Linked DNA regions of Homo sapiens: region 2 is linked to region 1. Evidence: fine-mapped expression QTL. A gene starts in region 1. The other region holds a variant in brackets. All regions are shown on one strand. Distances are from middle to middle. Region 1 holds the start of SLC2A13 (solute carrier family 2 member 13). Region 2 overlaps SLC2A13 (solute carrier family 2 member 13).

What was found. PIP is the estimated chance that this variant, and not a neighbour inherited with it, causes the effect. A credible set is the group of variants that fine-mapping cannot tell apart.
Region 2: its variant is the best candidate, but not a certain one, in a credible set for the expression of SLC2A13 in hippocampus (GTEx, PIP 0.67).

Annotation. Positions count from the first base shown.
Region 1 is chr12:40,097,129-40,113,377 of GRCh38, forward strand. It overlaps SLC2A13 (solute carrier family 2 member 13), which reads right to left and starts at 8,953. Exons shown (of 10, transcript NM_052885.4): 1 at 8,125-8,953. The coding sequence starts at 8,680. RefSeq lists silencers at 8,387-8,476, 8,487-8,556, 8,577-8,836, 8,857-9,106, 10,488-10,617 and 1 more and an enhancer at 10,107-10,276.
Region 2 is chr12:39,944,952-39,961,200 of GRCh38, forward strand. SLC2A13 (solute carrier family 2 member 13) reads right to left here. Exons shown (of 10, transcript NM_052885.4): 4 at 6,306-6,414. Among named protein-coding and RNA genes, the nearest start is that of SLC2A13, 150 kb to the right of the region's middle. RefSeq lists an enhancer at 1,762-2,261. The variant A/C (reference allele first, on the strand shown) is at 9,303.

The DNA.
Region 1 (16,249 bases):
ATAAAGAATGAGCTTTGTTTTAGAGCCTACTTTTTATAATGCCTCTGTTAAGCTGCTAAAAAGCATTATATCAAAGGAAATGAAGATAATATATTTTCACAAAGAATGTATTCTAGGGAACAAAATGACATACTCCTAGAAGTAAAATCTAGTATTTTATTAGAACTTCCAAAAAGCTTACTCTCAAGGGGCATGACAAATGACTCCAACAGTTTTAGTTTTGTGTGTGTTTAGCAAAAACAAATAGGACTACATCAAACTTAAAAACTGTACATCAAAAGACACAATAAACAGTGAAAAAGCAACCAATGGAATGAAAGAAAACATTTGCAAATCATATATCTGATAGGGGGTTAATATTCAGAATACATAAGGAACTTCTACAACTCAATAGCAACTGCAATAAACCAATTAAAAATAGGTCAGGGACGTGAAAATGCAATAAACAATTTTCCAAAGAAGATATACAAATGTACAAGTGGCCAACAAGCCTATGAAAAAATGTTCCACATCACTAATCATAAGAGAAATGTAAATCCAAACCACCATATCACTTCATATCCATTAGGATGGCCACTGTCAAAAGAAAAGAAAACAACAAATATTGGTGGGAATATTGAGAAATTGGAACCCTGTATACTGCTGGTAGCAATGTAAAATGCAGCCACTATGGAAAATGGGATAGAAGTTCCTCAAAAAATTAGAAATAGAACTACTACATGGTCCAGCAATCTCAATTCTGGGTATATATCCAAAATAATTCAAAGAAGGACCTCAAAGAGATGTATGCACTCCCATCTTCATTGCAGCATTATCCACAACAGCCAAGAGGGAGAGGCAACTCAAAGGTCCATCAACAGACGAATGGATAGATTAAATGCCCTATATATGTGTATATGTATGTATATATGTATATATGTGTATATATGTATATATGTGTATATATATGTATATATGCATATATGTGTATTTATTTTTATATGTGTGTGTATATATAGGTGTGTATATATATACACACACATATACACAATGGAATATTATGCAGCCTTTAAAAAGAGGGAAACTCTATCATATGCTACACCATGATGAACCTCAAGTGAAGTAAGCCAACAAAGGACAAATACTGCATGATTCCACTTACGTGAAGTATCCAAAGCAGTAAAAATCATAGAAACAGAAGGTAGAAAGGTGGGTTGCCAAGGGATAGGGAAGAGAGGCTGGGGAATTTGTGTTTAATAGACACAGTGTTTCAGTTTTGCAAGATGAAAATGTTCTAGAGATGTGTTGTGCAACAATGTGAATATACCTAACAATACTGAACTGTACACCTTAAAATGGGTTAAGAGTATAAATGTTATGTGTTCTTTACCACAATAAAAAAATAAATCTATACTAAAACAAACAAAAGTAATGTCCACATGACATATCATGGTAAAGAACAATTATGCTAGTTTCAGGGAGGAGTGAGTGAGTGAGTGAGTGTCACAGACTGGTTGAGCACAGGCTGGGAAGCCAGACCTCTTGGGTTTGAACTCTGGCCCCACCCAGTAGCTTTGTGATCATGAGAAAGTTACTTCAACTCTTTCTGCCTAAATATCCTTATCTTAAAATAAAGGTAACCGTATTATCCCCCTGGGTTATTATGAAGACTATGTGAATTAGCCATGTGCAAAATGTTTAGAAGTTAAGCATTCAACAAGTCTTAAGTACTACGTCCAGGGTGTTGGCCGCTAAGCTGATGGCCAATCCACACCCTGCCAAGAGGATGGACTGCCTAGACTCCTCCCAGTGCAGCGGCAGGGTGGCGCTAAAATCAGAAGAACACTGGTGCCATTGCTCGCTGGTGACCAGCTGTCACGGTGCTTGGCCCTGCTGTGAAACGATGCTCCTGCCACGTGGCCTTGGACACATGCTGCAGACCGCACCATTTCAAATGGTGGCCTTTAATAAAAGGCCTAACTAGAAAGCATGTAGTACTCTCAACTTGAGTTTAGAAGTACCCGTAAAACTTTTTTCTCTCTTTCTACAACCAGAGAAATTAAATTTTACATGTGGGAAAAGTTTGAGGTTTTTCTGGTGAGTATGAATTTTCCTCCTGACAATGGAAGTTTTGATACTATTAGAAATAGGTGCTATAAGAAGTGTTGCTACTATTTATTACTCTGATGGGTCACAGGAAAAAGAAAGGTAAAGAAATGGAAAAAGGTGTAGACAAGAAAGATGTACAAAGGAGCCAAGTACAATATGAGAAAAAGAAAATTAGACTCAGGTGATTTTGGGTAAAGATGGCAACGACTGCTTGCTATTTCAGTTCTCTTAGCAGTTTCTACATCATTAAAGGTGTTCAAAAAGATGTTAGTGTGAAGTCAGTTAACTTTGAGTGTGTTCTTACTTTAAGTTTATAATCCATAAGAGGGCAAAATGGATGAATGAAAAAGCACAATGTTTTCCAAGGAAGTCACGTGAACAATTTCACATAACTCACGTTAACAGACTTACGTTATCTTACTGACAACTCACTTGAAGAGGGTGTTGCTATACTACTAGGCAAACACAACTAGATCATAATCCTCACTATAACTGCAGTGTCAGTCCCTAGGCTGCCAGACAGAAAAGGGGAGGGAACAAAGCTGTTAATGTGTATAAAACAAGGAAATACAAGAAGTCAAAGGAGGCTTTATGTGTCAGTTTCACACCAGTAGGAAGCATAAATCCAATACAGAATTCCTGCCTTCAAAAACAACCAAAAAGAAAGAAAGTGGGGAGTAGTGGAAAAAAAAAAAATTTGAGCACCTCCCCCCAAAACTGTATTTTAGCTGATTAACTATTTGAAAATTAGGAGCTTCTGCCCAACTATGCTTACCTTAAATGACATTCTTTGTTGACATTGATCTCAACATTGCATTTTTTTGATCAAACAAGATTTTACATTTCATTTGCACTGAGGAAGAATTCAAAGTGCTGTTTGAAAAAAAATGTGGTATTTTTAAAAGTATTACTCAACAGGCCATAATATACTAATTACAAGCTGCAATTTACAGCTACAAATTGTGTTCAAGTAGAGGGAGTCCGGAAAGAGGCTGACACAGGAGAAACTGATGTAAATCTAAGATTAATTCAACGAATCCCGTGCTGTATAAATTAGTATGTCAATTCTCAGGAAAGGTTTTGAATACTGGTGACTATCAAATTTAGAGATTTCTTGATATTCCCTACACAGGCCCTAAATCACCACTTATAATAAGCAGTAGAATAAATGCCAACACCAGGGAGAAAGGGCTAATGGGTATGCTTTTTCACTGACTGTGTACATGCTAATAGTGTTAACAGTACTATGCTCTTGTACTTTGTGTTTTCTAGACAATTTCTTTTGTGTTATGCATGGGAGATACACAATGATAGAAAATAAATAAAGCAAATGAGCAAACTCATATTCTTCAATCCTGTTGTAACTAACCACACTTCAAAACCTTGATTATAGGTACAATACTGCTAAACAAACACCTGAAAATGGGATTGTGTGTAAAGAACATACAAAATAAGATTAACCCTGGGCCGGGCATGGTGGCTCACACCTGTAATCCCAGCACTTTGGAAGGCCGAAGCAGGCAGATCACCTGAGATCAGGAGTTCGAGACCAGCTTGGCCAACATGGTGAAACCCTGTCTCTACCAAAAATACAAAAATTAGCTGGGTGTGGTGGGCAGGCGCCTGTAATCCCAGCTACTCAGGAGGCTGAGGCAGGAGAATCGCTTGAACCTGGGAGGTGGGGGTTGCAGTGAGCCGAGATCTCGCCACCGTGCTCCAGCCTGGGCGACAAGAGTGAAGTTCCATCTCAGACAAAAAAAAAAAAAAAAAAAAAGATTAACCCTGTTAGAATACAATCATTTCTGGGATGGAAAACGTATGTCCTATTTGAAATTCGACTTTTCACGTTTAAAAAGTTCAGATGGTCATGGTAGCAGGCAGCGACAATGGAGAAAGTCTAGTGTCAGGACTCAAGTGGAAGAGAAAAATAAACTAGAGGAACCAAAGATGACTCTGGTGAACCAATAAAAAAAAAAGAAAAGAAAACCCAAAATAATGCCATATTTAAAACAGGCACGCAGTATTTTTTTTACAACCAGTCAAGAAAACAGAACCCTTAAATCAAAACAAATACACATATCCCTGACTTCTGATACTTAAGGTCTTTTACTATACAATTCATTTAATACCCATTAATAACTACACTCTACTCCTTGCTATCTTCGCCTTTGTCAAAGGTTTCTACTGAAGGGTCCACTGACTCCTTCCATATCAGTAATTCACGGTCACATGCTATGCTTTACCCATCCTGTAGTAGCCATCTCAGCAAATGATTGCTAATACCCAAAATTTCAAAGACATGAGAAGACTTAAGAAAGAAGGTAAAAGAGCTTAAAAGTATAATGGGAAAACAAAAACCCTCACATCTCAGATTCAAGAGATGTTAAATCTGATTACATTATTTACTGTTAAAAACCTCTAAAAGCTCTCCAAATAAACCATATTCAGCCTAATCCCCCCAAAACATTCCAGTCTCATGACCACCTCATCACCACCCTCACTCATCTATGCTTCAAATACTAATTTGATTTTTCTGTGCCTTTACACCAGCTATTAACTCCACCTTAAATGCCCAGTAGGGTAACAGAGCAAAAGACTCAAGGTTGTTTGTTTTTTTTTTTTAATCCTGTCTCTGTAATCAGTGACCTTGCCATTTAACTGTTTCCACACCCAACAAAAGGAGACCCATTCCTCAGACTCAGGAAGATTAAATGAGGTAATATGTGTAAAGTACTCCACCAGGTCTCGAACATACTAAAGCACTAAATAAGCACTTTTCTGGCTACATCTACATCATCTGCTGAACACCTACTCACTCTTCAAACCCTACTTTGAATATCCCACTGTAGAACTTTCCTCAATCCTGTGTTCTATTTTTTTCCCTGAAAGAATCAACTGACCACTTACTCTTCTGTGTGTCATCTGGCACTACAGAGAAATGTCTCTTTTAATTGCTTGTTTATGTATCTTTCTACTCCATTATAAAATGAACACCTCCAGGGTGGGATTTTTATCTAATTACTGCCTGCCCCATATCTGACAGGATCCATAATGGAAGCTTAATTAGCAAGTGTTGAATAGATAATGATTTCATTAAACTATTACAACCAAAACCTTTAGATGCCCTTTCAAATATTTTGATAATGCACTATTTTTGTGGTTTGAAAAGAACAATCCTACCTTAAAGTGCTACCCGACCAGCAATGGAATTTGGATTTTTTTTTTTCGTTTTTGCTCACCATTCATTTATTCAACAAGTATCTCCTATGTGGCAGGAATATATCAGTGAACAAAATGAGCAGAAATCCTTGACCCACATGGGCCGTATATTTTACCACAGGTAAACGTGTGGAGGAAAGAAGTTCTTAGAGCAAACTTGTCTGAAAAAGGTATCAAAAGCCACATTTTGTTATTCATCAACATTTCCTAAATATCATAAGGACAAAACAACAAATCCCTGACTACACATAAAATTTAACTACTTAAAAAACAATGGCATAAAATTAACCCAGATTGTGTACCAAACAAGCAAACTGATTTAATGTCCCTCAAAAAATGCTCATGTTAGGAACCCATTTCCTTGTAGCTTAAAAAAAAGTGATTTTCTTTGTAAGTTTTAATGATTTTATGTGTATAATTACATGCTTTGCATAGATCCTAATTTTAATCCTAATTTGAAGTGGATTTATTTCATTACTGTTTTGTTTTGAATGCGGCCTATTTCAAAGCCTGTTTATGATCTTAAAACATTCTTCATTTTGTAAATGAAGAGGGCTTTTACGAAACTGCCTCAGGGCTTCTATTCTGAGAGGTATGTTTCTGGAAGTGAGATGGGCCACACCAGAACTGAATGGAGAACATATCTAAACTGGGCTTCTCTATTGAACCAACCAGCCCAGAGACCACAGAATGAGGCTGCAAGACAGAGAGGCCTCCACAGCTCTTGCACACCAACACTTCCAATCTGATCTCCTGCTTTGTCCTCTATTGCTGCTTCCACCTATTCCCCAAGTATGCCCTATGCTTTCCTTCCTTTACCCATTTTGCCCCTTGCTTAGAACGTCCTTTCCTCGTTTCTGTTAAAATACTGACATGTCAACATACCATTTCCATTGGTAAGAGCTTCTGGCTTCCCTCTGTTGGAGATAACTGTACCCCCTCTGAATTCATCAGCCATCTCTGATAACCTATCTTATAAAGCTTAGCAAGTTCTACGTTGCTTTTGCCCCAGCTTGCTACATTTACTAAAGTATAATACATTCTCCTCACTATTCAGCTCACAACATCTGGAAGGGGACCTTACACAGAACAGGGCTCAATTCGCAGGTCAGATAAAAAGAGTAAACATAATACCCAAGATTTTAACCAATACCTGCCATAGCAAAACACTAGGAAGCTTCATTTAGACAGCTCTGCAAAGCATGATTCAATTTCAAAATTACAGAAAAGATTGAGGTTGACAGAACAATTCTTGCTACCTAAAATGATGTTATTTCTATGTCAGAAGCAACAAAAAAGGTCCAGATGTCCCAAGCAGACAATGCTGAGAAAAGAATCGTGGTCACTTAAACAGCAGGTTATTTGTTGAAGGGTCCTGAAGGCCCAAGTAGTTTCCACACAAATAGGTTTCATTTCAGCTGGATTTTTTGGTCACTTTGGATATTTTTGTGCCAACTTAATATGTTACGGAGAGCTTTGCCCTACCTTTGCTAATTAACAGTACAATAAACAGCAAAAGGAAGGTCACTACTGACAAACTTTGAATATAAAGTGCAGTGAGCTGGGTTTTAGGCTCATGGTTCCCGCATGTGGAGTTGAATATATGGCCTTTGCTTCCCTTCAGAACCCACAGAGAAAGGGTGAAAAGCACAAACATCAAACAAGTGGTGAATACACAGATCAGCAGCAGCCCCAGGTTTAAAGCGCTTTCATCAAGCCCCAGCCATAGGGAAGAAATACTTCAACAGCACCCTAAGGGAAACAAAAAACTGAATTATGAAACGAAACATTAAAAAAGCATCAGCGGTGTGTCTTAGAAAAATTACTAGTGAGATTTAAGTCACAGCCCCCCACTTTCCCTCAAAAGTGCTTTCTAATAATACAGAGCACATTCCAAATAGCTTCCCTCTGCCAAAAACTTGCCAATTGTACCTCCCCTGCTCAGCAACCAGGGTGAAAAAAATTCAACGCCAGGAGAACCTTAATGCCTTCATTTTTGAAGTAAATTCCAAACATTTATCTTGCGGGGCATTTATCCACAGGGGGAGTAGCTCCTAAATGAATTAAGGAAGTGAATATGACCTTTAATAGATAATTTGGTTCCCAACTGGAAAGCAGGAGAGGAAAAACAAAGAGGAGAATGGATAAAAAAGGATTCAAATGAAAAAGTTGGAAAAACAGAGGAGAATGGAATTTACTTGGGAAAAGAATGAAAGCTGAAAGGCAATAGAAAAAGCATAAAAGCAAAAGGAGATGCCATCTAAAGACAAATGCTAGATAAGCAAAGAGGGCAGGGGTCGCTAATAAACCTTTCAGAGTCCAGAATTACTTAACTCTAAATATTATCTCACTGTAACTTGACGATGGTCTAGGTTCCAGGCTGGGAGCCCCAGAAAACGAAAGGGGCTAGCAGTGGAGAGGCAAGGTGGGACAGTGCAGGAAAGCAGAGACCCTCGTAAGCTCAAGAAGCAGCATCAGGTTAGGCTGGATCAAGGAAAGAGCTGGTGCTCAGCTAGGTTTCTGGAAGTGCTGAGAGGCAACAACCACTTGGACTGACTGGTCCGTGGCCTATCAAAGATTCCACGTGCGCTCGAGGGAGACTAGAGTGACACCCCCTCCCCCCCGACCCTCCCACCTCCCGGGAGAGCCTTGGAGGCTGGACCAACAAACAGATGGGCTCTGGAGGCCAGAGAAGTGGAGGATTCTCTGACCCTGGGAGACCAGACGGGGACCCCGATGGGCAAGAGGCACGCAACACCCAGGGTCAAGGGCGGTGACAATGGGATCCCGGGCGCCCTTCACGGAGCCCGAACTCACCGATGCCGAGTCCCACGACCAGGCGGCCGGCGAGCAGTGTCTCCTTGTTGTTGGCCGCAGCCAGCACCGCGGAGCCGGCGGTGAAGAGGGCACTGGCCAGGAGGATGGCAGCGCGGCGGCCGAAGACGCCGTTGAGGGCGCCTCCGGCCAGCGCCGAGACGGCAGCCGCCCCCACCGTGCTGGACACCAGCAGCTCCTGCCACAGCGCGTCCAGACTGAGCTGCCGCTTGAGCAGCAGCATGGCCCCTGACACCACCCCGGTGTCATAGCCAAACAGGAAGCCGCCCAGCGCGGAGAAGACGGCCACCACGTACACGAAGGCGGGGGTCTCGTCCTGCTGGAACTGCCGCCGCGCCGCGCGCTCCAGGTCCCCGACGCCGCCGCCGCCCGCGCCCGCGCTCTGCAGGCTGGTGCTCGATTCGGCGGCAGCCAGGAGGCTGCACTCCCCGGCCGCGCTCGCCGCGTCCGGCTCCGGCTGCTTCCTGCGCCGCTCGCCCATCAGGCTGCTCAGGCTCCGCAGCGTGTACTCCACATTCTCGCTTGCCTTGCGGGACATAGGGCAGGGGCCCGGGGCTGCCCGGGGGGACGCGGCTCCGCGGGCCGGCAGTCTCGGCGAGCTAGACAGCCCGAGCCGGCGGGAGCAACCGCCGCTGCCGCCGCTTTCTTCCTCCCGGCTTCCGCTCCGGCTGCCACGGCAGCAGCCGCCGCCACGGCCGCTCCGGGGAGAAAGTTGCTGCCCGCCGCGCTCCGACGCTGCGGAGTTGGAGCCCGGCGGGTCTCACTCCACACTCACGCCCCGCGCCTGCCGAGCTGGCGCTGCGGAGCGGGCGGGAGGCGGGACCGCGGGTCACGTGCAACCCCGGGCCGGCGGGGCGGGGCCCGGGAAACGTCCCGCCCCCTCCTTGGGCGGGGCCAGGCTCAGCCCGCCCCGGACCCCTAAACCCCGCCCTCCCGGTGGGTGCGACCTCTGACCTAGGCTCCCTCATTTAGGGCTCTGGCAACCGTATGGAATTAACCCTGCCTTCCGAGCTGCAGCGGTGGAGCAAGCCAATGTGGCGATGCCATCAGGCAACAGGCTTCCAGACGGGAAGCCACCCAGAATGTTTGCCGTGTTTGGAGAGGAGGGAGAGAGCACCTAAACCAGCCTCACTGTCCTTCCAGCAGCCTAGAGAGAGGGCTGGAAAAAATATCCTAGAATAGGACCTAGCAAGTACCCTTCCTTTTATAGTATTGTGACATTACCCAGCGTGGTCTACTTCCCTGGCATTAAATGTGTTTGTTCTGGAGCAATTCAGGGCTGCATGCTCCCATTTCTATAGCTAGTTTCCACTCTCATCGCCAGTCCCTCCTCAATTTATGCTTATTTTAAAGGAATGGTACATTTGATTCTTTGAGGACAGAGAACATATCTCTGTGGTGAATCCCAAACCCTCCTTCCATGGATCCCCGACCTGTAAAAGAAAATTCACATATATGCATTCCACTCATGTAACGGGTAATTCCCAGAAATAGAAAGAAAACTCAAGACCCTGATTTGTGATTCGGCAGGCAGTCTCCATTTCCCCGCCCCAACATGCTAACCAAAAGGTAGGATAGCTTCTCTCCTGAGAATCCCCACTGTTGCCCTCCATGAGGCACTGTTTTAACAGCCTCATTTACTTGAAACAAAGCAAAGATAACGTTATTTGCAACCAATTTTTTAAACTGTTGAGTGAATTAACAGTTGTTGGTTCATTTGGGGTTTGTTTCCCCCTTTAATTTAAATGTTTTTAAAATATACAGTTGCGCATCAGGGGCTAAAGATAGTTTGTTTTGTTTTGTTTTGTTTTTGAGACAGATTCTCGCTCTGTCGCCCAGGCTGGAGTGCAGTGGCGCTATCTCGGCACACTGCAGCCTCCGCCTCCCAGGTTCAAGCGATTCTCCTGCCTCAGCCTTCCTAGCAGCTGGGACTGCTAAAGATGTTTTGTGCCTCTAATTTGCTTTCATTCTTCAGGCTGAGGGCAAAAAGTCAAGCATCATATGATTCTATTCCTACAATTCCACTGCTCTTTTATTTCCCTTATTTGAGCAAAAGCTTTCTTAGCCTGGGGCCTATTTTTCATGCAGCTATAACTTTTTTCCTTTCAGACAAAAGGATTTTGTCATTCCTGTTTCAGTAAAAACTTATATTAGAATTTGTCAAAACTGCTTTCGTTTTGATTATCAGTCACGATTATCTCTACAATATAGTACTTTCCTTGCCAGCAACAAGGAAAAATAAACTAATGAAGCCAGACGGCTTAACTATTTAAATGTTATCGTCTGGCTTTAAAGCAAGGCTCTACCGTCATTCCCAGGCATCAGTTAAACAGAGAGAGCCTTTAGATCTGCAGCAATGAACTCTTTAATATTCAGACCTCGGACAATATTGCAGGTGAGAGCGCGCCTTTTCCGCGGCATGCTACGGTATAGTAAAACTGCGCCCCCTGGTGGTGAGCCAATTCCCACGGCTTCTGAAGAGAAGGGCTCCGCAGATGAGAAGCATCTGGTTCTTTGACAGTTCCCTCTTGCTGAGATGAAAATAAACTACTTTTTGTCTCAGCTGGTGCAGTGAACATCTTGGTTCCTGAGCATTCCTTGCTTGAAATTCAGCTTTGGGGTCATAGAACAAGAAACTACTTTAAAAATTCTGTTCCGTATTAGGACAGTTATGTATCTGCGGTCAGGTTACATTTTAAAAGAAATGTGACGTGAAAAAAAAGGCATCGGAGGCCGGGCGCGGTGGCTCACGCCTGTAATCACAGCACTTTGGGAGGCTGAGGCGGGTGGATTACGGGGTCAGGAGTTCAAGACCAGCCTGGCCAACGTGGTGAAACCCTGTCTCTACTAAAAATACAAAAGTTAGCCGGGCATGGCGGCACGCGTCTGTAATCCCAGCAACTCGGGAGGCTGAGGCAGAGTATTGCTTGAACCCAGGAGGCGGAGGTTGCAGTGAGCCGAGATCGTGCCACTGCAATCCAGCCTGGGCGACAGAGCGAGATTCCATCTCAAAAAAAAAAAAAAAGCTTCGGAGAGTTAAACAGAATTCGTCTCAGCCTTGAGAGGGAGTCCAGTTCAACTTAGCATCAGCGCGTGAGTCTAATATGGAGTTCCCCAAAGTCGGCCCCAGCTGCGGTTTATGATGAACTGGAAAACCCATGGGCTGAGAATCAAAAGAGATGAATGTCAACACCACCATTGTTTTACCGTAAAACTTTCCACAAACCACAAGATTAGCTTGTGCTTTGCTTTTTTTTTTTTTCTCTCATTTGAAGAGCAGATAATGGTGCAGCAACTACTCATTGACGAGAGTGTTAAAGGGTATTTTTGAAATATAATTAATTGCTATTGCAGGGCAAATTTAATTACAAGAGTCATTATTGGTTTGCAGTGAGTTCTATAGTTCCAGCTTTGAGGATATTTGCTTTACAACCTCCAGTAACATGTTCCAAAGCAGTCTAACAATAAAGAAAGGCGAAAAGCCCCTTCTCAATCGTCTTTCCCACCATAACAGACCCCTTTGGCCAGAGATAACCACCTCTACCACTTTGAAATATATCTTTCCAGAACTTTCTCTATGAATTTATATGCATATGTATGTACATGGTAAAATACATATATATATATTGTTGTTTTATTTGTTTGTTTTTGAATTGTTTTGGATGCAAGAGATAGAGAATCGAGATCAAACTGGTTTAAGCCAAAATAATGGGAAAGAGGGAGTACTTATTGTCTATTGTCTCTGAAAACTCTCTAATAAGTTGGCGTCAAGTGCAGTTGGATAAAGGACTAAAAACACCAGGATGTCACACAGACGTCCATTTCTCCACTCTGCTTCCTACTCCTTAGGCTCCATTCTTAAATTTTATGTGGTGCTCAAAGGGCTGTAGCAAACTCCAAGCCCTATACCTGAGATAGTTTGGATATTTGTCCCCATCAAAATCGCATGTTGAGATGTAATCCCCCGTGTTGAAGTTGAGGCCTGACAAGACTAGTTTAGATCCTGGGGGTGGATCCCAAATGAATGGCTTGGGTCATCTCCTTGGCGATAAATGAGCTCCTTTTGAGTTCACAGGAGATCTGGTCCTTTGCTTTCACCGTGTGATGTGCCTGCTCCCCCTTTGCCTTCCGCCATGATTGTAAGCTTCCTGAGATCTTTCCAGAAACAGATGCCAGTGCTGTGCTTTCTGTACAGCCTGCAGAACTGTGAGCCAATTAAACCTCTTTTCTTATAAAATATCCAGTCTCAGATATTTCTTTATAGCAAGAACAGCCTAATATAATATCCTTTTCCACTCATGTCTGAAAGGACAGAAAAAGAGCCTCTTTCTCCAAAGCCCTAGCAAACTTATATTGTATGTAATTGGATTTGTCAGTTGTGGTACCATTCCTGCCCCAGTTACTGCAGCTGGGAGATTACAGTTTGGTGATCAGGCTGGGGCCAATCAACACCCACATCATGAGCTGTGAGTGAAGGTAAATTACATGGGCTTAGACTATAGGAGGTTTTCCCATAAGAAATGTGATGTGCTATTTTGCCAGAAGTCAGGCGAATAAATGCTGGCAATAAAACCAATATATTTGAGTTGCCATAAGTAATTAGTAAGTTAACATGGCATAAAAGCCAAGTAAACCATTTCAAGAAGGAAGAACTGGCTAAGAGAATCAATTATATTACACAGAGATCAAAGAGAATGAAAACTCATGGAAAATCTTTGAATTTTATTATAGAAAGTCAATGAAAGACCAGATGCAGTGGCTCATGCTTGTAATACCAGCACTTTGGGAGACCGAGGTAAGTGGATCATCTGAGGTGAGGAGTTCAAGACCAGCCTGGCCAACATTGTGAAACCCCATCTCTACTAAAAATATAAAAATTAGCTGGGTGTGGTGGCGCATCCCTGTAATCCCAGCTACTTGGGAGACTGAGGTAGGAGAATCATTTGAACCCAGGAGGCAGAGGTTGCAGTGAGTCAAGATTGCACCACTGCACTACAGCCTGGGCAACAGAGAGACTCTGTCTCAAAAAAAAAAAAAAAAAAAAAAGAGAAAGTCAATGAACGGTGACTGTGAAGAATCAAAATGTTATTTTGATGGTATTACCTTCATGAAGCCTAGTAATGCCAGAATCCCATCATTTTGATTATTCCTCATCTCTGTATGTATAATAAGCAATAGCAGCATCAGAAGAAAGATACTGTATTATTAATAAGTACAAAGGTAAAGTATGGGTCCTATGGCTTAGTTATGAAGTATAAGATACTTGGGTATTTAGTACTTCCCACAAGAACCTTTCTTTGACTTGCTGTAAGGAGGAGGAGGAAAAAGCTGAAAGGAAGGAGACAAGAATGGAGGGAAATAAGAAAAGATGGTCAGCATACCCCAATGGCCAGTGCCCTGTCTAGATCTGCCACTACAGAGAGACAAGGAGCAGGAAGCACAAGAAGGCATGAGGGATGGATGACCTTTTAACATACACTGACCCTGCCCACTAGTAACTATGACCCGATCAGCAATAGAGCCTGTGACACATCATTATATCATCTCCTCCTCCTTTGGGTAGGGAGAGTTGCAATGCCTGTTTCCCCTCAGAGACTTTTAAGAAAGCAATTTTAATTAAGATGAAATTAGTGGAAATATCAAACATAGGCTGCATTTTCTATAAGTCTCTTGCTAAATGTAATGAAAGAGTAGCTTAAAGAGTTATCAGGATCAAGGGAAAGGGTGTGGATGGGGATTAGGTATGACATGAATTTATTTAGATGCTGAAGTAAAAAGAAATAGTCAATTCAAGAGCTGGAATGATTGATAGGACAAAGTCCCAAAGAAGGCAGAAAGGATATGAGCAAGAACATATGGGGTGAGGCAAGGCTAGCCTAGCCATAGGGAGGAGGAGAGACACTTCTTCCTCTGAGAAAAAAAGGCAAGGAAACAAAAAAGAACATCATCATAAGAAAGAAGATGATATTAATAACAAGAATAGGGAAAGAGTTCTGTTAAATGGGTAATCTTGTGTATTTGGGGGTGAGGGGTGGAGTGAGCCTAAGATGTAGTCACAAAGACTCCACTTCATGTCTTCACTATGCTACTTCCTTGTGTAACCTTGGGCAACTTATTCTCTATAAGCTTCAGTTTTCTCTTCTGTAACTGGGAATAATAATACAGTATTCATATTTGGATGATTTCAATTCTAACAGATAATCCACATTCAAACTGTCCTAAACACTACAGAAATACATGGCATGAATCTGAATGGCCAGCTGTTGGGAATGGTATGATCAGCTTTTTCCAAAAATGTTATGAAGGAGCCAGGTTCTATCACTTTCTCTACTCTGCTATTCTTAGCATATTGGGTTTGCCCTCCACTGGCTTCCCCCAAAGTGGCAAGAGGACTTCAGCATTTTCAGATATCATAAGTTTCCAATGTGTACACATAAGGATAGTACCTAGTTCCTATCCTCAAATGTAATGTCTTTCAGCTAGTAAAATATCCACATGGCCAAATATAAAAGTAACTAATAATACATAGCACAATGTACTAAATGATTGCTACAGGGAAAAAAAACCAGAGTAGTTGAATTTTGGTTGTGGAGTGTCAAAATATTCTTTATTGACCCAGATGAATACCTACAAATGATCAAAATTAAAAAGAAACAAAAAAGAAAACCCAATTTGACTTGTCAATTCAAGGAATGCTCTCATTAAGCAGGATTGAGCGATCTGAAATGAGAACAATGGGAAGTATTTGTTTCAAAGTAGACTCACTAATGAAACTAACAACTCACTTTATTTCACTGAGATGTGATTAATTTGGTTTGAGACTGGTTCTTCAGGCAGTTTCAATGTTTGAGCTAGTTAGTGGAAAATAATTTTATTTTTATTTATTTATTTATTAAATTTTGAGCCAGGGTCTTGCTTTGTAGTCCAGGCTTGAGTAGAGCAGTGCCATCACAGCTTACTGCATCCTTGACCTACTAGGTTCAAGCGATCCTTCCACCTCAACCTCCCTCCTGCTTTAGCATCCCAAAGTGCTGGGATTACAGGCATGAGCCACCAGGCCCAGGTGGAAAATACCCTTTAAATTGAACTTGTAACATGATGAGCTCCTTACTGATCACTCTGTTTTAAACAATTTTATATATTTTGTTTTGCATTTTGAATCCAAATTGTAAACTCAGTTGTAACACTCACTCTGTCGGAAATTGTAAGTACAGTAGGCATGGTACCACTGTGACCCTACTTAGCCAAATTGAATGAATTTATCAAGTTAAAACTAAGCAAAGTATGCAGCTGAAACAATCAACATATATTTTATAATTGGCTAATGAGTGTTATATAAATTAATAAATTCCTCTTTCCTTATACTCTCAACTCAGAAAAACCAAAAACTTTTAATTTGATAAAACAAATTGTGTAACTCATTGTCCATATAATGTTGCATGGCATGAACAAACACTGTTTGGAAAGATACTTTTGTCTTCCCTGTCAGTAGTACTTACACATGCAAAATAAAATGATCATTTAAATTAACTTGTGCAAAAAACATTTCAGCAAGAGTGGCCAACCTCAATATATCCAAAAGCATGCTATTGTAATTTCCCTCCAGATTCTCTCTCACAATTTTTATAATGTTGATATGGGTTGGCTCTGTGTTCCCACCCACATCTCATCTCATAATGTAATCCCCTCATGTTGAGGGAGGGACCTGTAATCCCCACGTGTCAAAGGAGGGAGGTGATTGGATCATAGGGGCAGTTCCTCCCATACTGTTCTCATGAAAGTGAGTTCTGATGAGATCTGATGGCTTTATAAGTGTTTAGAAATTCCTCCTTCATGCTTCTTTTTCCTGCCACCTTGTGAAGAGGTGCTTGCTTCCCTTTCTGCCATGATGGTAAGTTTCCTGAGGCCTCCCAAGCCATGCAGAATGGTGAGTCAATTAAACCTCCTTTGTTTATAAATTACACAGCCTCTGGTAGTATCTTTATAGCAATGTGAAAACGGACTAATACAAATGTATACCATGGAACATTTTTATACCTAGAATACACTGAACCACCTTTGGGTAATGCTGAAGTTGCTTTCACATTTGATTTTCATGCTAAGAGTC
Region 2 (16,249 bases), 150 kb before region 1:
GTGCTGTGTGATTTTTGCTTTAAAGAGTTTCTGTTTTGAGGTGTTTCCAGGATTTGTTTCAAGATTTAGAGCTCCGTTTAGCAGTTCTTGTAGTGGTGGTTTGGTAATGACAAATTCTCTCAGCATTTGTTTGTCTGAAAATGACTGTATCCTTCCTTCATATATGATGCTTAGTTTCTCTGGAAACAAAATTCTTGGCTGATAATTTTATTTGAGGAGGCTGAAGATGGGTCCTCAATCCTTTCTAGCTGGTAGGGTTTCTGCTGAGAAATCTGCTGTTCATCTGATAGGTTTTCTTTTATAGGTTACCTGGTGTTTCTGTCTCACAGCTCTTAAGATTCTTTCCTTCATCTTAACTTTGGGTAACCTGATAATGTGCCTAGGTGAAGGTCTTTTTGTGATGAATTTTCCAGGTGTTCTTTGTGCCTCTTGTATTTGGATGTCTAGGTCTCTAGCAAGGCTGGGGAAGTTTTCCTCGATTATTCCCCCAAATATGTTTTCCAGGCTTTTAGAATTCTCTTCTCAGCTATGCCGATTATTCTTAGGTTTGGTCATTTAACATAATCCCAGACTTCTTATAGGCTTTGTTCATATTTTCTTATTTTTTTTCTTTGTCTTTGTTGGATTGGATTAATTCAAAGACCATGTCATTGAGCTCTGAATTTCTTTCTTCTACTTGTTCAATTCTGTTTCTGACACTTCCCAGAGCATTTTGCATTTCTAAAAGTGTGTCCAAAGTTTCCTGAATTTTTTATTGTTTTTCTTTAAGCTATCTATTCCCATGAATATTTCTCCCTTCACTTCTTGTATCATTTTTTGGATTTCCTTGCAGTGGGCTTTGCTCTTCTCTGGTCCCTCCCTGATTAGCTTAATAACTAACCTCCTGAATTATTTTTCAGGTAAATCAGGGATTTCTTCTTGGTTTGCATCCACTGCTGGTGAATTAGCGTGATTTTTTGTGGGGGGGTGTTGAAGAGCCTTGTTTTGTCATATAGCCATGGTTGGCCTTCTGGTTCCTTCTTATTTGGGTAGGATCAGTCAGAGGGAAGGTCTAGGGCTGAAGGCTGTCGTTCAGATTCTTTTGTCCCACAGGGTGTTCCCTTGATGTAATACTCTCCCCCTTTTCCTATGGATGTGGCTTCCTATGAGCTGAACTGCAGTGTTTGTTGTCTCTCTTCTGGGTCTAGCCACGCAGCGAGTCTACCTGGCTCCAGGCTGGTATTGCAGGTTGTCTACACAGAGTCCTGTGATGTGAACCGCCTATGGGTCTCTCAGCAGTGGATACCAGCGCCTGTTCCAGTGGAGGTTGTGGGGAGCAGGTTGCAATGGACCCCATGAGGGTTCTTAATTTTGGTGGTTTAACGCTCTATTTTTGTGCTGGTTGGCTTCCTGCCATTAGGTGGAACTTTCCAGAAAGCATCAGCTGTAGTAGTGTGGAGAGGGACTGGCAGTGGGCAGAGCCCTAGAACTCCCAAGATTATATGTCCTTTGTCTTCCACTACCAGGATGGATAGGAAAGGACCATGAAGTAGGGGCGAGACTAGGCATGTCTGAGCTCAAACTCTCCTTGGGCGGGTCTTGCTGTGGCTGCTGTGGGGGTTGAGGGTGAGATTCCCAGGTCATTGGAGTTGTGTACCTAGGAGGATTATGGCTCCCTCTGCTGAGTCATGCAGATTGTCAGGGAAGTGGGTGAAAGCTGGCAGTCACAGGCCTCACCCAACTCTCACGCAAACGGAAGAGCCGGTCTCACTCCCACCATGTTCCCGCAACAGCCCCAAGTCTGTTTCCAGGCGGAGGGCGAGATGGGCTTGAAAATTTGCCCAAGGCTGTCCGCCTCCCAGTTGTGAAAGAAAAGGGCTTTAGTTTTTCCCCCGGCCTGTGAAGTATGAACGCCCCATTTGCGTCCTCCCTTATGGCCAGGAGGCTTCTTGCCCCATTCAAATTGTTACCAAGTTCAGCTACAGAATTTCTTCTCCCTGTGGACTTTTACCCCCTGCTCCTCTGGCCACTCTCCTGATGGATCACTGTGGTGCCAGGCAGGAATGGGCTGCTTGGGATCCAGCAAGCTCCCAGGGCCTTTCTGCTGCTTCCTCTACCCGCTTATTTCACTTGCCTGTCTAACTTGACTCAGCTCTCTAACTTGACTCAGCTTCTATTACTCTGAGTTAATAGAAGACAGAAAAGTAAGAAGAGGAAATAAAGCTGGCAATATTACTCTGCAAGGAGAGTGGCTAAAAAGTAAAAGACCAAATGCCCCAGAGAAGATTCCCCCACAGTTCTCTTTATCCGAAGCAAACTCAAAAGCTTAAACTCTGGATTTTCTTTCCCCCTTTACTACTGTTTTTCTGTGTAACCTTAAAAGAGAGTCATTTAACCACTTGGTCTTCTTAGGTAAAAATCTGATACCTTTCATTCATCCAAGACAGACTGATTATCTGCTTATCAGAATATACCAAAATATAGTTTACTTCAAGTTCCCCAAAAAAGAAAGATGTTATCAAACCCACATAGAACTTAGTGTTTTCTTTCTCACTACCTACGTACACCTTTCCTCCTCCAAACATGAACACATGTATTTAGGTTGTGGTAATGATAATGTGGGAAGTGTCTATTTATTAATAGTCATCAGATAAATATTTCTTAGATTGAACATGGAACATCTTTGATATTATAACTAGAGTTTAGAATAGATCACAGTGAGAATTTCTTTTTTTTTTTTTTTTTTTTGAGACGGAGTGTCGCTCAGTCGCCCAGGCTGGAGTGCAATGGCATGATCTCGGCTCACTTCAAGCTCTGCCTCACGGGTTCACGCCATTCTCCTGCCTCAGCCTCCCGAGTAGCTGGGACTACAGGCGCCCGCCACTATGCCCAGCTAATTTTGTGTATTTTTAGTAGAAACAGGGTTTCACTGTGTTAGCCAGGATGGTCTCGATCTCCTGACTTCATGATCTGCCCACCTCGGCCTCCCAAAGTGCTGGAATTACAGGCATGAGCCACCGCGCCTGGCCGAGAATTTCTTGAATTTACTTTAACCATCATCATCTTCATCTATCACTCCTCTTCTTTATTTTGACACATGCAGAAATATTTTATTGGTCTATGAGATACAGTGCAATGATACTAACACCCTTATATTAGGAAAGTTAGTACTCCATTTTCTCTACTCTTTCTCTCCTATGAATAAAGGAAAATAATCAATTCAGTTGCATGTTGAAATTATTAGGATGAGAGTCATATTATAAAAAAAAATTGCCTCATCTAAAAGTGAAATGTAATGTCTGAAATATGTAAGTTTTAAGAACTTACAAGTCCTCCATTCGGTAGGGTAGAGGATGAGAATGTATGGGTTGGGATATAAAGAAACATAAGTTATCATACAAATAAAAGATATATATCTATATATATGATATACTGTCTATAGATAAATATGGTAAAGGAAAAGAAAATCAAGTATTTCAAGAAGAAAATCTATTTTGTCAAATGTGACAGAATAGTAAATAGGTCAAGGGAATAGGAATAAAGGATTCTTTGAGGGAGAAGATAAAAAACTAAACACAGTAAGATTATATAACACAACTGTGAGGATGATTTATCTTTTAATGTATTTGTTTAATATTATCTTTCCGTATAATCTTTCTATAAACTCACCTTGGTGAGAAATAGAATTCAAAATACCTTATATTTCCATTCACTCAGATTTTGAGGTAAACGACAGAATTTTCAAAAACGTATTTCAACTTCTACACATTATTAGGGTTGAATTAAAATAAAGAAAAGCATTAACTGCTTTATTTCCCACTTAAAAGGGAAGAAGCTGGAAAAAAAGAGTAAAATTTTATATACATAAACATATGTGTTATATGTAATAAAATATCCATAGAAAAGATATTCTGAATTAACAAAGTAACACAAAATAAAAGGCATAATTAAAATTTCTACTAAAAATAAAAAAAGTAAATTACTAGACTCTAATAGATTATTTTAAATCAGAAACAAAGTTTATGATAGTATTTCCTTAATCTTGAGAATAATGGAAAAAGATACATACATATACACACACAAATAAAGACTAGAGAGAGCAGGAGAAAACACATTACATGAGAGTCCCAGATTAGTTGTTTTTTATGCAGACAGTAAACAGTATTACAGTGTATCATAATGACACTGACTTACACTAAATTTTATGGGCTTATAATATGAATGTCTGAAATTATGTACTGTGAATAAACAACAGTTACTCAGCATAGGTATTGTATTATTTTAATGTCTAATCCTTTAACCTCTAGACATGAACATATTAATTTATGCAGGAAGTTGATTAGCTGTTTTACATCATGTAGACACAGTCTAAGTTCAGCCATCATTTACTTTATTTTATTCTTCCTGTTTTCCAGGATTGATAATCAAATGCAAACAAAAGCTCTATGACAACACTACCTATATCATGTGCAGTTTATGATAAGCAAAGTGCATCTATCATAAATATTAGAGAATATCAGGATCCTTATATCACTTGATCTTCAGGAAAAAAGTGAGGCTTTGGAGAAATGAATGTTTTATTAAAATTTGACAGCATCAATCAGCTCAATTTACACTAGCTACTGCTAATGGATTATGACAGTCATTTCAAACTAGGAATACACTGGCCCCAGTCACTACCCATAAACTAGAGTTGGCTCTGTTTGTGATACCAGTTTTAAGTGAAAACAAAAAAAGTACAAGAAAAATCCTTCACTTTCTATGCTTTTATACTTGTCAAGTTTAAATGCTTAGGAAAAAAAGCATAACAAACAAAACATATTTTCAAAACCAGAACAAATATTAGGTTGGTCAACTAACGAATTCACATAGGATTATTAATGGATTTAATTATTTGATGCTTGGTCCTAGCCTAGCTGCAATTCTATACTTCCACCAGACTGCAGAAGGTGGACACATCTCAGAACAAGTCATGATGTGCCAAATTCAGAGAACAAGCAATCAAACGTGCCTGGCACTAGACCAACAGATGGGCCTTAATAGAGCTGGTAAAGGTGAGAAAAAATGAAAGTTAATGTCAGAGAGAAGCAGGAGAGAACAAAATATTGAACATGTAGTCTCGAAAGTTGAAGTTCAACAGGGATTATGATTAAAGTCAAATCCACAAAGTGTGTGAATGTATAGAAAATGGAGTTTCTCAACAAATCTTGATTTAATATACTGGCTCATTGGGTCCTAATCCTTCTTTTTTAAAAATATTTTAATCAATTCACTCTTCTCAAACAGTCACTAAATAACTCATCATATCTCAAGTAATTAAAAAAAATCAAGAGTCTCAAATACAAATGGTTTACCAAAGAAAATTTAATTTTACATAATTTGTATTTTCTTAATGAAAAAAATTCAATCAATAGGCAGGGAGTGGGGAGGACTTCTAAGATGTGGCAGCTTTTAATCTAACAATATGTGCCCTGGGAAAGCACATAACCTTCTCTAAACTGTATTTTATGATTTAGGATCTTAAAAGTCTACTCTGTAGAGAATTGAGAGAGTCCTGTATGGCCCTTATCATAGTTTGAAATCTTATATTTAACTGTGAGTTTATTTAATGTGTGCTTCCTCTACCAGCCTGTACATCCATGAGGACAAGACCCAGGTCTATTTTAGTTACTGCTGTAGGTCTAGTGCAACAGAGGCCCTCAAAAATGGGTTTAATACTGAATGAGGGAAACCTAGTAGAGCCCTTAATATTTAGTCCTTCCCACCCTCAGCACACATACAGCTTTGGGAATTACTCTTAAAATTAGAGAACAGGGAATTTTTCTGTATTCCTCACTCTCCTTCCCACTCAATCTCCCCTCTACCATACTCTGGTTATAATAAACGTACTTCTACTAATGTCCTTATCACATTGCACTGTAGTAGACTGCACCAAAAAGAAATGAATTAGTTATCTGTGTGCCCATAATCTCTGGCAATGCCAGGTGATTTCCTTCTATTTTGCTTTCCAACCAGCATCAAGAAATGGCTTAGAAAAAATGACACATTTAAGCTCAGAATACAAGGAGGTATTGGATGGCGTAAAAGAGAAATTTTATGGAATCAAATAAAGCCAATCATATAACAAACAAAATAAATCACCTTTATCTAGTAACAAATTACTGGAATTAAAAAATTGTAAAGTCAGTATCTCCCAAAAGGAGAATTCATACATTTAATCAGAACAAATCACTGAGTCTAGTATTTACATGAAATACTTTTCACTATTTCACATAAAATAATCCTTTCACAATCTTTTCAGTAAAAAGCCAGAAAGAAATACATACATGATGGTGTTAATGCCTGAGAGCTGCTGGAACATTTGTAGGCCACAACCCACAATTAAAGCTCGGCGAGTTGGGGGATAACTCAGCATTCTGCAGATCACAGGTCCAGCTTTTTTAAGAAAGAAAGAAAAAAAAAATACAACTATTATTTTTAGCTCTCATAGTAATTATTCCCAATAGGACAAATTTTCCTAAATCTTCATGAAATCAACATGACTGGGCATTTTAAATCAGAACAACTCTATTTTTACAGAAATCTGGGTACAATATTTTATTTTGCAAACAGATAGTGTTTTTGTTTTTGTTTTTAGTTTGAACTGTAAAAGCGACAAGAGATAATTTAAGTTTAAGCAATTTATGGGTACTAGAAGACCTATATAACTAAAACTGTCAAATTAGTCTTCCTTAAATCCCTACAAGCTCTAGAGATTAACCACTTCCTTTGTTCTTCAACTTTCTTGTCAATTAAGTATTATTTAAAATCCATCCATGTGGGACTACTTAAAAGTCACTGGCAAAATTGCTTTAATCAACCGTAAGAAAAGCATTCATTAAGAAGAATTAAAGAACAAAATTCATGTTATTTTACTAAAGTTACAGAATTTGGGCATGATGTCAGCCTTGGTTATAGCTACAATGGAGATTATTAATAAAAGTTACCAAAAAGTTAATAAAGAAAAACAATTAATACCTATTATCTATAGATGTGTGTATGTGTGTGTACGTGTGTGTGTGTGTGTATTTCTAAATTTTGAATAGTCCCTTAAGAGGCAATCAATGATTATTTTAAAATACAAATGAACTTTCAAAATGGCAGAGATACTTTGGTCTTTATCTGAACTCTGGATCAGTTCTGGAAAGCTGTAAATCTGAACCACTGAGTCCTTAAGTAGGTTGACTAACCTTATTGATGCCTGTTGTCAGGGCATAATTACTAAATGTGGCCCTTCCAGCCTCATAAGTGTTTCAGTTACAATGTCACCTTAGCTTTAAGAGGCATTCTATATGGTGTCCTTAATGGAGCTAGAGTCAACTCCCAGGACCTATGGTATTCCCGCTGTTAGAAGAGATGGCCTGGGATCACTGCAATGCTAACTGCTTAATTAGAGTCCAAGTTTTGTTAATGAACTCTAAACCAAGTCCGGTAAATTAAAATCCAAAGAAGTCTAACTATTTCAGGATCTTTTGAAAATCTAATATTCAAATTCACAAAAATGGAATACAATATGTATGTTGTCTCAGCAATAAAAGTTAGTATGGGACGTCAAGCCAGGGCATTAATTAGAATGAAATATTATAGGGGTGAGAATATTCTATTCCTACATGGATATAAGTATAATCATAAAACTTGAGTTATTGCAAATGATTTTGTTTCTAAATGGCAAGAGAGGGAATAGATTAATTTAGAGAAGCGTTGATGGTCATTCAAAGCTAAATGTAGTGACGATCCATTTAGAAAGCAGACTGAGGGTATTATAAATGTCAAATTGCCTTAGATTCGAGCAAAGCAGTATTAAAGCCTAATATATCAGAAAGACTGTGTGAAACAGGTGAATTTTGAGAGTTTGATTGTAACAATGCTGAAATATATCTGGATCAGCAACCTGAAAGATAGGCAGGCTCATCTGCAAATACAGATACCTGCAAGTGACCCACAAAATAAGCAAGGCACTACCTTTCCTTTAATCAAAACTTTCAAATAAAAATAATAACATTTACCTTGTATATCATGATTTTTTTTTTAAAAAAAGACAACAAAACAAAAACAAACAAAAGCCCTTTCTCAGATGAGAAATTAGTTTTTCCTAATGCAAGAAGTCTATTATAATCTTTGGAAAGATGCATCTACTTTCACTATTAAACTGTATCATGATTTGATGGTCAGGCTAGGTAATAATGATTTTGGAGAACAGAAATACAGAACATTATGACAAATTAGGACCAAAGTTTGACTTGCCATAAAAACAAGAGATAAGCTATTGCATAAACATCACATATTTCCTAGTTTTTTAAAATCTGGATTTTATATTTTCTCTTGATTTGGATTTCCTGTTAAAAATAAATGATGGTAGTTCCTTTATTAGACTGCATTTTTTAATGGATAAATTTTGGTCCCAGCAGCTGCACATCTGATTATGCATAAACAAAATTAAAGAATTTCCTTTCATTAAAATTATGAACCTAGCTTTATTAGGCAGTAAAACTTCCTTTACAAATGAAAACCATCATTAATCTTTATATCACAGAATCTATGAGGCAGAAGAAAAAAATCAAGTACATTAATTGGCTGAATGTTCATAAGTGAACATTTAAAATGTCATGCTCTACTTAAAACATTTCTTTTGCTTTTGTAATTAAAAATGTTTTGTGCATACAAACATTTCACATTTAATTTTATTTTAAATGTTTATCTTTCAAACACAGAAATTCTCACATTATAAAAACTAAAACCTTTAACCAACTAGATTAGAAATAAAAGACCTAAAATATAACCCATAGTAAAGCAGTAGATTCAAGATCCCAAAATGAGCTCATCCCTCTTCCTTCACTCTGAACACCTCATACTACCAAGTTGCTAAGTAACTTGCATAAGGTTGTCCAGGTGGCAGAGGCTCCAGCAGCAGGGATGAAAAAGAGTCCCACAAGGGCAGCCACTTTTGTGGATGATAGGTTGTCTGTGAACCTAGCCTACAGAAGGTTTTCTAAGTATGATTAAAAATGCACTAAAAGCCAGTTTGTATAAAATTCCAGCTCTTGACTTTCATTTCCAGCTAAGACAGAATAATGGCTATCAGCTTTCCCTTTCTACATGAATCAACTAGAAAGCCATGCAAAAATGCATGAAACAACAGTTCTCATGCTAGCGGATAACAGGCAATGAAGCAAAGTGATACCTGAGATTTGGGAAACAAATGAGGCGAACCCTGTAACTGTCCCCAGCTCAATATCTCAAAAAAGTTTCCAGGCTGCAGCACAGGGCAGGTAAACCAGGCAGAC[A/C]TTGGTGTTTCCTTGAGTTGAAAAGATGCAGCTCAGAATACAGAGATGCCAAGGGGGCTAGAATTCAGATGGCAGAGGACCCAGGGAGGATAGATTCAGAGAGGGAGGAGGAGAATCTGGAGATCTTCAGAATTTCCCTTGAGTATTCAGTTGAGTACTGATCAGTGTAGGTGTGTGAGGAAACAACCCAAGACAGGGGAAAGAGCTACTGGAAAGGGTTAGAGAAATCAATTCCAGGAGCTCAAACAGGGCTGGGGATAGTGCCTGTTCCTACGAACCAGAGTGAAAAATCTGAAGCATACAAAAGAGTATTTAGAAGGGATATACCTTAATAATGGTGTAAGTTTAGTCCTAGATTAAACATTACTTGAATGCCATCTAAAACAGCATAAAAGCAAGACTCAACTGCTTCTAAGCAGCTTAATGGTATCCGAGAACAAAACTCAATGAGATAAAATTTTATAATGTGGACATAAAATAAAAAATAACTAAGAATGCACAAAGGCAGGAAAATACAATTTGTAAAGATAACGGGACCAATTCATCAAGAGAATATAACAATCCTAAACGTGTATGCACTTACTGAGAGCTTCAAAATATTAATACTTGAAAGAAAAACTGACACAACAGAAAAGGGAAATTGAAAAACCTACAATTGTACTCTCATATTTCATCACTCTCAGTAACCGACAGAACAAGTATCCTGAAATTCACCAAGGATATAGAAGACTCCAAGAACACTATCAACAAACTTGACCTAATAAGTGACATTTAAACCACATTCCACCAAATAAGAGCAGGATATGCATTCTTAAATTGTATGGTCAATGTCTTAGAATATTTACCTGAGGTAGATTATATTCTGAGCTCTAAACTAGTCTCAACTCATTTAAAAGGATTCAAGTCATATTAAGAATATCCTGACCATAATGAAATTAACATAGAAATCAGTAACTGAAAGACAACTGGAAAACATCCCCCAAATTGGAAACTAAATAACACATTTCTATGAAAATTAGTAAGAATATAAAGCTGAAAGAATCTAAACACATAGCCTATAAAAATTTGTGGAATGGAGCTAAAGTGTAACAGGTAAAATTACTGCAAGAAATCTCTTAGGAAACCTTCAACCTTAAGAAACCAGAAAAAGACAGACGAGTGAAACCCAAAGTATGCACACGCTAAAAGTATTACTAAAGATCAAAATGGAAATCCATGAAGTAGAAAAGAAGAGAGTTGAGAAAAATCCATAAAACCAAAATTGTTTTTTTAAGACCAATAAAATTGATAAGCTTCATGCCAAGCTATGGTAGGCTAAATAAGGGCCCCTCAAAACATATTCACATCCTAATCCCTGAAACCTGTATTATCTTAGATGTCAAAAATAAACTTTGTAGGTATAATTAAGTTAAAAATTTTGCGATCGGAAGACAATCCTAGATCATCCAGGTTTTCCCTAAATGCAATCACATGTATCCTTATCAGGAGGAGGCTGAGGAAGATTCGAGACAAAAGCAGAGAAGACAAATGCAGAGATTGGACCTACGCAGCCAAAAGCCAAGGAATGACAGGTGCCCCCAGAAGCTGGAAAAAGGAAGGAAGAGGTTGTCCTCTACGGACTCTGGAGGGGGTGTGGGACAGGAGTGGACACCTGGCCACCACAACTGTGAGAAAATAAATGTCTACTGCGTTAAGCTACCAAATTTGTAGTAATCTATTATAGTAACCACAGAAAACAAATGCACAGACTATCCAGGAAAAAGCCAGAAACACAAATGACCAATATCAGGAGTAAATGAGGTGAACTCAGGACAGATATTAAAATAATAAGAGTATCATGAACAACTTTATGCCATTAAATTCAGCATCTTCAATGCAACAGACAAATTCCCTAAAAGATACAATCTTCCAAACTCACTCAAGAAGAAATAGCCTGAGTAGCCAGCCCTATAAGCTATTAAAAATACTGAATTTGTTAAAAACGTTCCCCCAAAGAAAACTCTAAGTCCAAATAACTTGACAGAAAGCAGATCAATGGTTGCCTGTGGAGGGAGGAATTACAAAGGGGCACCAAGGGAAGTTCTGGGGAGGCAGCAATATGTTCACTTGCATGGTTGTGGTAATGGTTTCATGGTGTTCACATATGCCAGCGTCTCAAATTATATGCTTTAAATACATGCTTTTTATTGTATGTAAATTATTCCTCAATAGAGCTGCTAAAAATCAACAACAAAAGTAAGAAAAAGCTTCACCAATAATCTAGAGACTTTAGATGTCAGGAAGGCTGACATGGTGAACTGGATAAGAAAAAAAATTCAATATTCAAAGAGCATGATATTCCCTTAAGTAAGAACACAAGGGGGTTATTAGAAACAACAATGTTTGATCAAACTGAAGTAATGAAGTCTGCTGTGAGACTGCTGAAAGAGAACTGCCAATGATGAAGCCCCCTTAACACCTCTTCAAGGTTTTTCTTGCTCTTATTCTTCCCTTTCTTTTTGTTTTATTTATTTATGAGTTTTACCTTGTATTAATATTAAAGTTAAGGAGGAAAAAGTGGAACACTTTGTGACTAATGGATTACAAGATGCAAACTGTAGGAGGCTTCCCCACTGCTGATAAAGTAAAGATGCCCCTGTGGAGAAAGCAGGGGCCTCACTGGGAGCAAGATAATCACTGCTCAGCTTCAAATATTATTCTCCCCACTCCTCAATTTAGGGCCCTATAATTGGGCTACAATCAAGCACAGCAAGATCCCCCAACACCACGATCCTTTCCTGAATGCAACCAGAGGCGGCCATTCTCACACAATCACCAAGAGTATTAAGCATTTGCTCAAATCTCAATGGATTATCTAATACTTCAATAACCCTTCCTGCCTTATGAACAATTTCCTATCATCATCAGAGTCCTGTGAAGTCAGAGAGACCAAGTGTTGCTACCCCCATCTTAGAAAAGAGGAAACTAAACACAGAAGGATTAGATAACTCTTCCAAGGTCACAAACTAGTAAGTGTTTAGAGAGAGAACTTGGGCCGACATCTTGTTCATGCCACAAATGCCAAGATATTTTGTATGCCCACTTAAATAAGCTTATTTTTCTTAGCATAAAAAATCAACAACTTATGAACAGTAGAAGTAACACAAAACAAAACTGAAACACTTCCAAGCTATAGTAACAAACATACTCTGTGCTCCTTACGACTGCAATTCCTCCATTTCATTTTCTTCATCATTTTCATGGTCCCACCTGCCACTCTATCCAGCCTCAGTTCCAGATTTATCTACTTCAAGCCACTCATTTCATTCCCACATCCAGGGAGTTCTCCATTCCCACATCCAGGGAGTTGAGCATTGTTTGAGAATAATTACAAAAACGAGCCACACTCATTTTGGGACAAATTCAGCATGTCAGGTCCTGCGTGCTATCAGGGGAGCCTTTCACTCATCTCTAACTGGCTCCCAATCATGTTCTCACAACATTCACTTTAAGCATTCCTCCTCCTTGGACTTCCATTGATTTCTCCTGTCTCTCTGGCCAAGAATCCCCTAGTTCCTTATCATACCTGAAGCGCTTCCCATGAGCCTACTCCATGCTAGGGACAGAAACGTGAGGAGGCCCAGCCCCTGAGGAGCTCATAATACCAGGATGGGGTCATCCACCAAAACAAAACAAGCTATGCCACAATGGTGTAAGTGCTCTAACAGAGGTACATATACAGTATTATGAGATTAAGGCATAAGGAAGGACCCACAAGAGGTATGCCACTCAGGTACATACAAAACAGAAGTCCTCATTTCTCACCCCAAACTTGTTTTTTACCCCATGTTATCTAATTTCAAAGTAAATCAAGATTCATGGCTTTTGAGTGCTCCTTCTCTCTTCATATATCCTGAATCTAATACATTGCCAAGTTTTAATCAGAATTAATGTATGTATGCCTAACTTCTTTCCACAAAACATTGGAAAGATTTCTTCTGTTCTGCACCTGTACCTCTCTGCCTCCCCACCTTTCTACTGCCTGTCTGGCTGGCATCCATCTCCCAGTGGGACAGTGCACGGCTGTGGAAAGTGTTCACACAGACCAGTGTTAACATACCAGTCCTACAATGTAGCCACTGTGAGATTCTGTAAGTCTCCATCGCCCCTTCAGTAAAATGGATTTAAGAGTAGTACTATCCATTTGAGGATTAGAGATAATAAGGTTCCTGGCACATACTATTCATGTGTTCAATAAGAAGCCTAATATGTGGTCTCAACATCCCCAGTCTCTACCGAATCCAATCCATCCCGCCTCCACATTGCTGCCACCTGTTGGCTAAAGCACCCCACTGAATCCTCCACTTACTTGTTCAAAACCATTGATAACAGAACCATCAGGGCCTGTTTCATGAAGGGGACACTCCTGCCCCAGCCCACCTGAGAAGATTTGTTTCATACTACTTCTCCTCTAATAGGCAATGCTTCAGCAATTTTTGGGTAATCTGTTTTACTCAAAGAAGTCCCATATTGTTACAATTTTGTCTCTTACAATGTTCCTTCTGCTTGGGATCCCATCCTTGCAATTCTGAAGGACTGGACCAGGCTCTCACTCCTGGCTAATTTGTTTTGGGGACTAGGTCCCTGATCTCTGTTCCATAGTGAATTATGATCTCTGTGCTGGATTATGTCGGGTGTGTAGTTCAGGCTTTGCTCATTTTATCATTTTACTTCCCATTGTGCTTAGTTCAGGATCATGTAAATAGAGGACATTCAGTAAATATTTCCTTGATGAATATAAGGAATAAAAGAAGGAAAGAAGAGAAAAAAAGAGAAACACCAGAGCAAGTATGGGGATTGAGAACTCATGGATGAAGCAATTTGAGTATACTCCAAGTTGCTAAACAATGTTGTGATTAATTAGAAACTACCACCAAGATCCTGAGCACACCCACGCTGTTTTCCTCTTCAATATGCAGCAGATGATGTTTGTGATTACAAGCTGGTGCTTGGCACATGTTCTGCTTGAAAGAATGGACTGCTGCTATTGATGAATTCAACCCCATGTGGTTCAATCATTCTTTCACAGTCTGGCATTTATGCCAATACATTCCAAAATCCTCCAAGGCAATCAATTTGCCAAGATGTTGTGATGGGCCAGTTGTCTATAGATGCGTGCTTGTAAGCTGATCATGGTACATTAGGGCCGGTATGCAATGACTGTGTTAATCTGGTCATTATTATTCCAGGTTGCTAATGTAAAGGTTTTTATCAACTTAGAAGAGGAGATGATTATAGGTCTTAATACCACTAAAATACTGTTTTCAAAAACCAATTTCTGTTACTATCAAGAATTCTTTCTAAATTCTAAAATATTTTCTTTGTCAAAAGTATCTACATAAATGAAGCAGACATAAAATGCATTCCTCAGCAATTCTCAACTGAACGAATTTCAAACTTCTTAACAGTCATGGGAGTGTGGTATGTTGCTGAGGAAAAAATTACGAAGAATTACTGTTCTAGAAAACTTTTATTTAAAAAGAGGAAGTATCCTTTCTAAATAAATAATTTTCTTTTTAAAAAAATTTTATTTTACTTTAAGTTCCAGGATACACATGCAGTATGTGCAGGTTTGTTACACAGGTAAATGCATGCCATGGTGGTTTGCTGCATCTACCAACCAACCCATCACCTAGGCATTAAGTCCCAGATGCATTAGCTATTTATCCTGATGCTCTCCCTTCACCTGGCCCCCAGACAGGCCCCAGTGTGTGTTGTTCCCCTCCCCGTGTCCATATGATTTTCTTAAATAGCTATATTGTTAGCATTGTCTATAGACAGGGCCACTTTTTTTTCCTATATGTAAATATATCTTTATTGGGGTCTGCTAAAATATCAGTTACTTTTCTCTAAAGTTATATGCATATTTCATAATATTGATTCCGCAGTACCTGACATTTTGGTTTCTATTATCATTGGTATCTTTTTTAACATTACATTTCCTCTTTGATGCTGCACTTGTATGTTAATTTTATATCCACCAATTTTGGTGAACTCTATTAATTCTAAAAGATTTTCTGCACATTCTCTTGAGTTTTCTACATAGACTTCCGCAAACAATGACAGCTTTATTTATTCCTTTATAATGTTGGCTAGTATTTTCTTGGAGATGAAGACTCGTTCTATTGTCTAAGCTGCAGTGCAGCAGCGTGATCTCAGCTCACTGCAACCTCTGCCTTCAGGTTCCAGCAATTCTCCTGCCTCGGCCTCCTGAGTAGCTGGGATTACAGGCACGCATGACCATGCCTGGCTAATTTTTTTATTTCTAGTAGAGACAGGGTTTCACCATGTTGGCCAGGCTGGTCTCGAACTCCTGACCTCAAGTAATCCACCCACCTCAACCTCCAAAGTGTTGGGATTACAGGCGTGAGCCACCGCGCCCGGCCTAATATTGGCTAGTATTTTCAGTACAACGTTTATTAAATGGTGAAAAATGGTTTCCTGTCTCATTCTTTTTTTTTTTTTTTTTTTTCAAGACAGAGTCTTACTGTGTCACCCAGGCTGGAGTGCAGTGGCGTGATTTTGGCTCACTGCAACCTCAGTCTCCCAGGTGCAACCGATTCTCCTTTCTCGACCTCTCGAGTGGCTGAGATTACAGGCGCTCGCCACCACAGCTGGCAAAATTTTGTATTTTGGTAGAGATGGGGTTTCACCACGTTGGCCATGCTGGTCTCGAACTCCCGACCTTCAGTGATCCACTCGTCTTGGCCTTCCAAAATGCTGGGATTACAGGCGTGAGCCATTGTGCCTGGCCCTTGCATGATTTTAAAGAGAATGTTTTTTTCTTTTTTTTTTTTTTACTTTGAGACGGAGTCTCGCTCTGTCATCAGGCTGGAGTGCAGTGGCATGATCTTGGCTCACTGCAACCTCTGCCTCTTGGGTTCAAGCAATTCTCCTGCCTCAGCCTC